Linked DNA regions of Homo sapiens: region 2 is linked to region 1. The links come from fine-mapping of genetic effects on gene expression. Tissue or cell type: whole blood. Region 1 holds a variant in brackets; the other region holds the start of a gene. All regions are shown on one strand. Distances are from middle to middle.

What was found. PIP is the estimated chance that this variant, and not a neighbour inherited with it, causes the effect.
Region 2: it holds the start of CASD1, and the variant in region 1 is fine-mapped to the expression of CASD1 in whole blood (TOPMed, PIP above 0.99).

The regions. Positions count from the first base shown.
Region 1 is chr7:94,754,503-94,759,652 of GRCh38, reverse strand. No RefSeq gene overlaps it. Among named protein-coding and RNA genes, the nearest start is that of PEG10, 100 kb to the right of the region's middle. The variant G/A (reference allele first, on the strand shown) is at 1,966.
Region 2 is chr7:94,507,820-94,512,969 of GRCh38, reverse strand. It overlaps CASD1 (CAS1 domain sialic acid O acetyltransferase 1), which reads right to left and starts at 3,161. Exons shown (of 18, transcript NM_022900.5): 1 at 2,753-3,161. The coding sequence starts at 2,885. RefSeq lists silencers at 2,498-2,857, 2,958-3,107, 3,148-3,367 and enhancers at 1,901-2,887, 2,888-3,876.

The sequences.
Region 1 (5,150 bases):
ATGTGTATGCTGCAGTCGTTGGGTAGAATATTCTGTAAATATTTGTTAATTCCATTTGTTCTACAGTATAGTTTAATTCCATTGTTTCTTTGTTGATTTTCTGTCTTGATGACCTGTCTAGTGCTGTCAGTGGAGTACTGAAGCCCCCACTATTATTGTGTTGCTGTCTATCTTATTTGTTAGTGTTTTGTAAATTTGGGAGCTCCAGTGTTAGGTGCATATATATTTAGGATTGTGATATTTTCCTGTTGGACTAATCTTTTTATCATTATATAATGTCATATATATCACTATATATATATATATCATTATATAATGTCCCTCTTTGTCTTTTTAAACTGTTGCTGCTTTAAAGTCTGTTTTGTCTGCTATAAGAATAGCTACTCCTGCTCATTTCCAACCATTTGCATGGAATTTTTTCCCACACCTTTACCTTAAGTTTATGTGATTCCTCATGGGTTAGGTGAGTCTCTTGAAGACAGTAGATACTTGGTTGGTGAATTCTTATCCATTCTGCCATTCTGTATCTTTTAAGTGGAACATTCAGGCCATTTGCATTCAATGTTAGTATTGAGATTCGAGGTATTATTCTATCCATTGTGCTAATTGTTGCTTGAATATCTTGGTTTATTTTCCCATTGTGTTATTGTTTTATAAGCCCAGTGAGATTTATCCTTTAAGGAGATTCTATTTTGGTGTATTTTGAGGTTTTAAGATTTAGAACTCCTTTTAGCAGTTCTTGTAGTGCTGGCTTGGCAGTGGTGAATTCTCTCATCATTTGTTTGTCTGAAAAAGACTTTATTTTTCCTTCATTTATGAAGCTTAGTTTTGCTGGATACAAAATTCTTGCTGGATAATTATTTTGTTTAAGGAGGCTAAAGATAGGACCCCAGTGCCTTCTAGCTTGTAGGGTTTCTGCTGAGAAATCTGCTTTTAATGTGATAGGTTTTCCCTATAGGTTACCTGATGCTTTTGCCTCACAGCTCTTAAGATTCTTTCCTTCTTCTTGACTTTATATAACCTGTTAACTATGTGCCTAGGTGATGACTTTTTTTGTAATGAATTTCCTGGGTGTTGGATATCTAGTTCTCTAGCAAGGCCAGGGAAGCTTTGTATTTGGATATGTAGTTTTCTAGCAAGGCCAAAGATGTTTTCCTTGATTATTCCCTCAAATATGTTTTCCAATCTTTGATATTTTTCTTCTTCCTCTGAAACAGGAAGGTTTGATAATTTAACATAATTGCAAACTTCTTGGAGGCTTTGTTCATTAAAAAAAGTTTTTTCTTTGTCTTTGTCAGATTGGGTTAATTTGAAAGCCTTGTCTTCAAGCTCTGACGTTCTTTCTTCTACTTGTTCAATTCTATTGCTGAGACTTCCCCATGCACTTTATATTTCTCTAAGTGTGTCCTTAATTTGCAGGAATTGTGATTTTTATTTATGCTATCTATTTCTCTGGATAGTTGTTATCCATATCCTGCATTCTTAACAATTTCTTTAAGATGGTTTTCACCTTTCTCTGGTGCCTCCTTGAGTAGCTTAATAATTAACCTTTTAAATTCTTTTTCTGGCAATTCAGAGATTTTGTCTTGGTTTGGATTCATTGCTGGTAAGCAAGTGTGAACCTTTGAGGGTGTTATAGAACTTTGTTTTGTCATATTACCAGAATTGTTTTTCTGGTTCCTTCTCATTGGGGTAGGCTATGTCAGAGGAAAGATCTGGGACTCAGGGGCTGCTGTTCAGATTCTTTTGTCCCACAGGATGATCCTTGATATGGTGCTCTTCCCCTTCCCCTAAGGATGGGGCTTCCTGAGAGCTGGACTGCAGTGATTGTTACTTCTCTTCTTGGTCTAACCACCCATTGGAGCTACTGGGCTCCAGGCTGGTACTGGGGAGTATCTGCAAAGAGTCCTGTGATGTGATCCATCTTCAGGTCTCTCATCCATGGATACCAGCTCCTGTTCTGGT[G/A]GAGGTAGCAGGGGAGTGAAGTGGACTCTGTGAAAGTCCTTGGTTGTAGTTTTGTTTAGCATGCTCGTTATCTCAAATGCTGGTTATGCTAACAGTGAAGTTGTCCCGTGTCCAGACTCAGGACCTCTGGTTAGCCAGGATGTTATAGGTGGTGGAATTAGCTATTATTTTCTTCCTTGGAACAGGGTTTGTTTTGTTATGAGTTTTTGTAAATGCTCGAGTTGGTTGGCCTCCAGCCAGAAGGTGGCACTTTCAAGAGGGCATCAGTTGTGGTAGTATAGGGGTGATACAAGCTTGCCCTAAGGTCACCTGGATAAGTATTCAAGTCTCTCAGGTGATGGATGTGGCTGTAGAGCTCCCACGGGTTTATGTCTTTTGTCTTTGGCTACTGTGGCAGGTGGAGAAAAACCATCAGGTGGGGGCAGGGTTAGGCATGTCTGAGCTCAGACTCTCCTCAGACGAGGCTTGCTATGGTCACTGTGGGGGATGAGGGGTGGTTCTCAGGCCAATGGAGTTTGGTTCCAAGGGGGATTATGGCTGCCTATGCTGCTTTGTACAGGTTGCCAGGGAAGTAAGAAAAAGCCAGCAGTGACAGGCCTCACCCAGCTTCCCAACAGCCAGCAAGGCCAGTCTCACTCCCATGCTCCCCCAAAAGCAAACAGAGCCAAGTTTATATCCAGGCCCCTGGTGCTCAGGACTGAGATCTTGAACCAGGCTACATGCCTCCCTGCTAAGAAAGCAAGCAGGGCTTTCAGGCCTTGTCCCTCCTCCAGCAAACTCCAGCAGACCTGCAGCAGAGAGGCCTGTTAGAAGGGAAACTAACAATCAGAAAGGAATAGTATCAACATCAACAAAAAGGATATCCACTCAGAGACCCCATCCAAAGGTCACTGACTTCAAAGATGAAAGGTAGATAAATCCTTGAAGATGGGGAGAAACCAGTGCAAAAAGGCTGAAAATTCCAAAAACCAGAAAGCCTCTTCTGCTACAAAGGATAACAACTCCTCACCAGCAAGGGAACAAAACTGGATGGAGAATGAGTTTGACAAATTGACAGAAGTAGGCTTCAGAACATGCGTAATAACAAACTCCTCCAAGCAAAAGGAGCATGTTCTAACCCAATGCAAGGAAGCTAAGAACCTCGATAAAAGGTTAGACAAGTTGCTAATTAGAATAACCAGTTTAGAGAAGAACATAAATGACCTGATGGAGCTGAAAAACACAGCATGAGAACTTCGTGAAGCATACACAAGTATCAATAGACGAAACGATCAAGCGAAAGAAAGAATATCAGACATTGAAGATCAACTCAATGAAATAAAGTGAGAAAATATGATTAGAGAAAAAAGAGTGAAAAGAAATGAACAAAGCCCCAAAGAAGTATGGGACTAGGTGAAAAGACCAAATCTATGTTTGATTGGTGTACCTGAAAGTGATGGGGACAAAGGAACCAAGTTAGAAAACACTCTTCAGGATATTATCCAGGAGAATTTCCCCAGCCTAGCAAGGCAGGCCAACATTCAAATTCAGGAAATACAGAGAACATCACAAAGATATTCCTCGAGAAGAGCAACCCCAAGACATATAATCATCATATTCACCAAGGTTGAAATGAAGGAAAAAATATTAAGGGCAGCCAGAGAGAAAGGTCGGGTTACCCACAAAAGGAAGCACATCAGAATAACAGGGGATCTCTTGGCAGAAATCCTACAAGCCAGAAGAGAGTGGGGGCCAATATTCAAGATTCTTAAAGAAAAGAATTTTCAACCCAGAATTTTATATCCAGCCAAACTAAGCTTCATAAGCGAAGAAGAAATAAAATCCTTTACAGACAAGGAAATGCTGGGAGATTTTTGTCACCAGCAGGACTGCCCTACAAGAGCTCCTGAGGGAAGCACTAAACATGGAAAGGAACAACCAATACCAGCCACTGCGAAAAGATACCAAATTGTAAAGACCATCAACACTAGGAAGAAATCACATCAACTAATGGACAAAATAACCAGCTAGCATCACAATGGCCAGATCAAATTCACACATAACAATATTAACCTTAAATGTAAATGGGCTAAATGCCCCAATTAAAAGACACAGACTGGCAAATTAGATAAAGAGTCAAGATCCATCAGTGTGCTGTATTCAGGAGACCCATCTCATGTGCAAAGACACACATAGGCTCAAAATAAAGGGAGGGAGGAATATTTACCAAGCAAATGCAAAGCAAAAAAAAAAAAAAGAAAAACAGCAGGGGTTGCAATCCTAGTCTCTGATAAAACAGACTTTAAACCAACAAAGATCAAATGAGACAGACAAGGGCATTAAATAATGGTAAAGGGATCAATGTAACAAGAAGAGCTTACTATCCTAAATATATATGCACCCAATACAGGATCACCCAGATTCACAGAGCAAGTTCTTAGAGACCTACAAAGAGACTTAGACTCCCACACAATAACAGTGGGAGACTTTAACACCCCACTGTCCATATTAGACAGATCAACGAGACAGAAAATTAACGAGGATATCCAGGACGTGAACTCAGCTCTGGACCAAGCAGACCTAATAGACATCTACAGAACTCTCCACCCCGAATCAACAGAATATACATTCTTCTCAGCACCACATCATTTATTCTAAAATTGACCACATAATTGGAAGTAAAACACTCCTCAGCAAATGCAAAAAAAAAAAAAAAGGAAATCATAACAAACGTCTCTCCGACCACAGTGGAATCAAATTAGAACTCAGGATTAAGAAACTCACTCAAAACTGCACAAATACATGGAAACTGAACAATCTGCTCCTGAATGACTACTGGGTAAATAAGAAAATGACAGCAGAAATCAAGAAGTTCTTTGAAACCACCGAGAAAAAAGACACAATGTACCAGAATCTCTGGGACACATTTAAAATAGTGTGTAGAGGGAAATTAATAGCACTAAATGCCCACAAGAGAAAGCAGGAAAGATCTAAAATTGACAACCTAACATCACAATTAAAAGAACTAGAGAAGCAAGAGCAGACAAATTCAAAAGCTAGCAAAAGAAAAGAAATACCTAAGATCAGAGCAAAACTGAAGGAGATAGAGACACAAAAAAACCTTCAAAAAATCAATGAATCCAGGAGCTGCTTTTTGAAAAGATCAACAAAATAGATTAGTCAGACTAGTAAAGAAAAAAAGAGAG
Region 2 (5,150 bases), 250 kb after region 1:
AAGTTCTGAGAAAGACAGACTGTAACATAAGGCATGAGACAGACTAACTGGGATCTAAATCCTAGCTCAGTCACTGTGTATCCTTAGGCAATTTAATCTGTCATGCTTCATATTTAAAATGGAAATAATACTGTAATTCACTGAATCTAAGACCACTGATTATTAGACACATGATTATTTTATGTCACAGTAAGAAAAAAATGTTACCAATTAAACTTTGACATGCAATCAAAGTTTTAAAGACTCACCCTGATTACAAAGATGTTAAAAATAGTGGAGAGGAGTGAAATATGGTAATTGTATCTACCTCATAGAATGGTTATAAAGACAAAATGAGTTAAAACATGTAAAACCTTTAGTAGAACAGTCCCTGACATATAAGTGCTCAACGTTAGCACACAGTATTCGCCAAGCTTTACTTTCTGTAGTGGGTAATTCTTTCCTTTACTTTCGGTAGTTTGTAAAGCAAGAGATACTGAATATGTATATCCAAACTGCATTCACTCTACCTTGCCTCAGCACACTCATACTCACACATTCAAAATCCAAATACACAGCCTAATCTCCTTCATCTAATGTAAGATCCTTTCTTATTCTAAAGCAAGATTTTCCAAGCCATGGCCTGGGCTGCTGGAGGCCCAGGATGGCTTTGAATGCAGCCCAAATTCGTAAACCTTCTTTAAATGATACGAGATTTTTTGCAATTTTTTTTAAGCTCATCAGCTATCATGAGTGTTAATATTATGTGTGGCCCAAAGACAGTTCTTCTTCTTCCAATGGGGCCCACGGAAGCCAAAAGATTGGCCACCTCTGTCCTAAAGAGTTATAATGTGAGTCAAATGTATGATTATCTTTGTGTGAAGGGCATTGCACCTGACTCAGTTTGATACTGCCAAAGCATGAGGATATTCCTGGTAAGATGTTTATTTTTCCCAGTCTTCAGCTCAAATTCTTGACATTCAGTCTGGGCAAGTACACTCACCAGGTGTATGCTTCACACTCAAGGCACTGAAGTACCTATGGAAACTGATGACTTACTTCTGGAGAAGGCTTTATAAACAATCCCAGATTGCTACACTGACTCATAAGTCCCCATCTGACATTCTATTCTCCCTGCTGATGACAGATCTTGATAAGATGAAATCTATAATCTAAAAATAATAGTAGTCCAAGGTTATCAAAAGATAAAAAGCACAAAAAAATAAAAGGAAGGGGACTAGATGTTTATTTATCTTAGGACAATAGTACTGTAGTTATAAAATTTCTCTCTACTACCATTACATAAATTGAATTAAATTACTGTTCTTTTATACCAAATTGGCATAAAATGATTAATAGTAGTTAAAAGAAATATTTCCTCAAAACCACCACAAATCAATGCATCAACATTGCTAGTTTTACATGATTGTAGATAAACCAAGGCCTTGCAAGGTCGTATGGCTGTGATCTGGAGAGAGCTGGAGAGAGGCCAAAAGGTTATAAAGAATCTAATTTTTAAAATCAATTTAGTATACTAAAAGCTGTTCACCCAGTATGGCTCTAGAGTACAATATTTTTAATTCTCAAGAGTTGGAAGAAATAAAGCAGCAAAACTGACCAAAATTGAAAGATCTCCTGGGATGAGAATACAGCGCAGACTCCAACAACCCGTTTATGGATATTTTGCCAAAGTAGGTGTAAATTTAAACGGGCACAGCGCTAATTTGCACCTGTCCATTACACATTACATCTTGACTGATTAATCTCACAGTCACCAAGAGCTGGCCAGATAATGGCTTTGATAGTATTAAGAGCCAAAAATAAAAGATCCTATCATTATTAATTTCCCTCTGCCTGTCAGCCTCTCTCCCAGTGACATTTTTACAAAGGAAAAAAAACAATCAATCAGCAAGGAGAAGTAAATATCCCTTGATTACTGAAAGATAATTCATTCTCAAATCAGGTCATATTTCCTTTTCCCCTTTACACCAATTTCAAAACCCATGGCCAAGGCCTGCTTTCAAAGTGCTTACAACTTGCTTTCAACTGCCCACCTTTACGCCTGTCAACCCACAACTTCCTTCCAAAAATCTGCTCTGGTGCCTTAACTTTGTAAAAAGTGTGCACTCCGAAGCCTTTAAACGTTTCTGCATCACAAAAGCTGGGTGGCACCTCTTCCATTTGGCCACAGGCATCTTTTGCCAGCTGTCGCCCTTTTGGCAAAGGAAAATGGGGGCGGCCCTTGCCGCTGTCCAACAGCCCAGACTGGGTGTTACAGGGCAGAGGCAAAATTAAACAAAGGCTAAGGAGCCGGACCCTTAAGAGGCAGGACCTGCGACCCCACTGCTGGCAGCGGTGCCCCTTGCAGGGCGGCCTTGGGCTTCATGCGCCCCGGGCTGCCCCCAAGGACCGCCTGTCCGACTTCCTGCACGCGAGCCCCTGATCTGGAGCGTCTCCCCGAACCCAGACCGCTCAGGAGCCGGACCTCAGCAGCACTTTTGGCCAGGTCCAGGGTTGGCGCCCCCGACCCCAGCGCGGGCGGCTCGGGGCGCCCAGAACCACCAGCCATTGTCCTTTGGTGGCCCCCACTGGGGTCCACTCAGTTGGCCTCGGGCGCCGGCCGCTGCTGGGGACACCTGGGGGAACCGCCTCCCCCGCGGGCCGGGCCGGCGGAAGGCCGCGTGGGCGTGTGTTGGGCGATGGGGGCGGCCTCCAGCCGCCGCGTCGCCGCCTCCCCCACGGCCTGCCCGGGCAGAGGGGAGGGCCCGCTCACCTCGGTAGCGGCGGGAGGCGAGGTGGCACGCTGCGAGCAGCAGCACGGCCACCAGCGCCAGCACCTTGGCGCTCCTCACGCTGAAGTAGTGGTTGATCTCCCGCTTGCCCAGGTTGTAGGCCAGAGCCGCCATCTTGGTTCCTCCATGACAACAGTGCGCGGCGGAGCGGGAAAGGGGCGCCGCACAGGGGCAGCACTGGGGCTGCCGCCGCTGCAGCCAGGCGAGGAGCGGCCGCCAGCTCCCCAGGCCGCCACCTGCGCCTCCCGCCGGGGAACCTGACCCCGCGGCCGCGGCGCCCCCGACCTCCGCCTGCCCCTCCTCGGCCGCGGCCGACTCGGCGGCCTCCCCCCAGCCCCGCCGCCGCTGCTCCGCCGTGCCGGTTCCCCAGGCGCCCTGGACGCCTGTCTCCTCCCCTTCCTCCTCCTCTTTAGCCTCCTGCCTTAATAGCGGCTGCGCCTGCGAGGGGGGTCCGGATGCCCAGTGCTCCGGGGTCACCGGGTCACGCGCCCCGGCGGGCGGCGGCGGCTGCGGCAGAGCCATGGGGGTGTGGGGAGAGAGTACTAGGGGTACCCGCCTGGCCCGGACGCGAGCCTTAGGGCTGTCTCCTAGTTTACTGGCCGCTACCTGAGCCCAGGTTGGGGCAATAGAACTACAGTTCCGGGAGAAAAGTACACATCGTCCCATTCCTTCCTTCCCCAACACTCCCCTTTCTCAGCCTTCTACTGCCAGAACCCGCCCAGCGGGATGCGAAGGACACCCTAAGGTCGTTTATTGTCTGGCTATCCGTGGCCTGGCTGGTCAGTCTGGCTGCCCCTGGGTGCTGGCCAGATTGGATTGATGGATCCAGTTGATGGTGCTGGCCGATGGATTGCTGGCATCCAACCCAGGAGTGAAACCAGTCTTAACACTTAACTCACCGCTCTGGCCAGTTTCTCTTAAACCGTTTTTTTAATGTCCTCAGTTTGCCCAGTTCTGGTGGGCGAAAGTACACCAAAGTTCCGAATGGAAGGTACAGAAGGAGCCTAACTTAGTGTAGGTGTTGATGAGAAAAGAGTCTGACTCTCACTTGTATTTACGCAAGTTTGGCTAGGTCGATGTGCCAAAAAAATTCGTTTTTTTTGAGAGGGAGTCTCACCCTGTCGCCCAAGCTCTAGTGCAGTGGCGTGATCTTCGCTCACTGCAGCCTCCCCCTCCTGGGTTCAAATGGTTGTCCTGCCTGAGCCTGCCGAGTAGCAGAGATTGCAGGCGCCCGCCACCACACCCGTTTAATTTTTGTATTTTAATAGAGACGGGGGTTTCACCATTTTGGTCAGGCTGGTCTCGAACTCCTGACCTCAAATGATCTGCCCATCTCGGCCTCCCAAAGTGCTGGGATTACAGGCATGAGCCACCAAGCCTAGCCAAAAAAAATTTTTCTTAATGTGCTTATGACAATCATCCCCGCTACTAACGTTGGTTAATGTTTTGTGATTCTCAATAAAGCCAGCACTCCATTTCCTTAATAAAGCATTGTTATCCCTACTCTCCTCTCGCTCCCACCCCACCTTTTTTAAATGGTTTTTCTTGTTGCCTTCCAGATGGGAATGGTTATTTACATTGCTTGCCATTCTACTTGCCTTGCCTTGTTTAGAGTGAGTCATTGTTTAGTTGGGGTGTTGTCAAGTATTCTTTACAACTTTCCCATTTAGCCATTCCTGAACTTGTGCTTATAGGCCCCTCTTAAAATTATAGAATATTAGATATGAAGGGACTGTAGAGATCTTGTCTACTCATTCCCATTCTCTTCATCCAAGGACTCTTTATTATGTTTTCATCCATGGACTTTATATCTTGAAAGATTTTGTCACTTAAATGAAATCACATACATCACTGTCATGGATGTAATGCTAATAAGCAATAAAGTTAAATAAGTGTACAAACACTTAGGCACTGTTCCCTGCAAATAGTCTTTTAATTTTGGCTGTCATTCTGATCAGAGGTTGATCACATGTTGTAAGAATTGGGTATTGTAAAAACCAGATAACTCTGCCAACAATATATGGTCTGCCAATCACATCCTAGACATTTCTATGATGTCATTACCAGCAAATTAGAATTTCTGATCAGCATGCAATAACCAGTGTTAACCCAAAGGGTTGAGTTAATGCCTGCAAAAAGTAAAGAAACTTGACATTCTATTAATTGCAATTTCCAGAAGGCTTTCTTAAATACTGTAAATAGCTTGTGAACCTCCTTTTTCTTCTCTCAAGTTTAAGGCCAATCTCTCTACCTCTGCTCTGAATCTTTTCTTATCCTCCTTTCTTGAGGGTGTTGATTCCTCCATCAGTTATCCCCATGCAAATCATTCTTTTTCTGTGTCTTCCAATTCTCCCTATCACCTTGCTGTTTGCCTTCCTC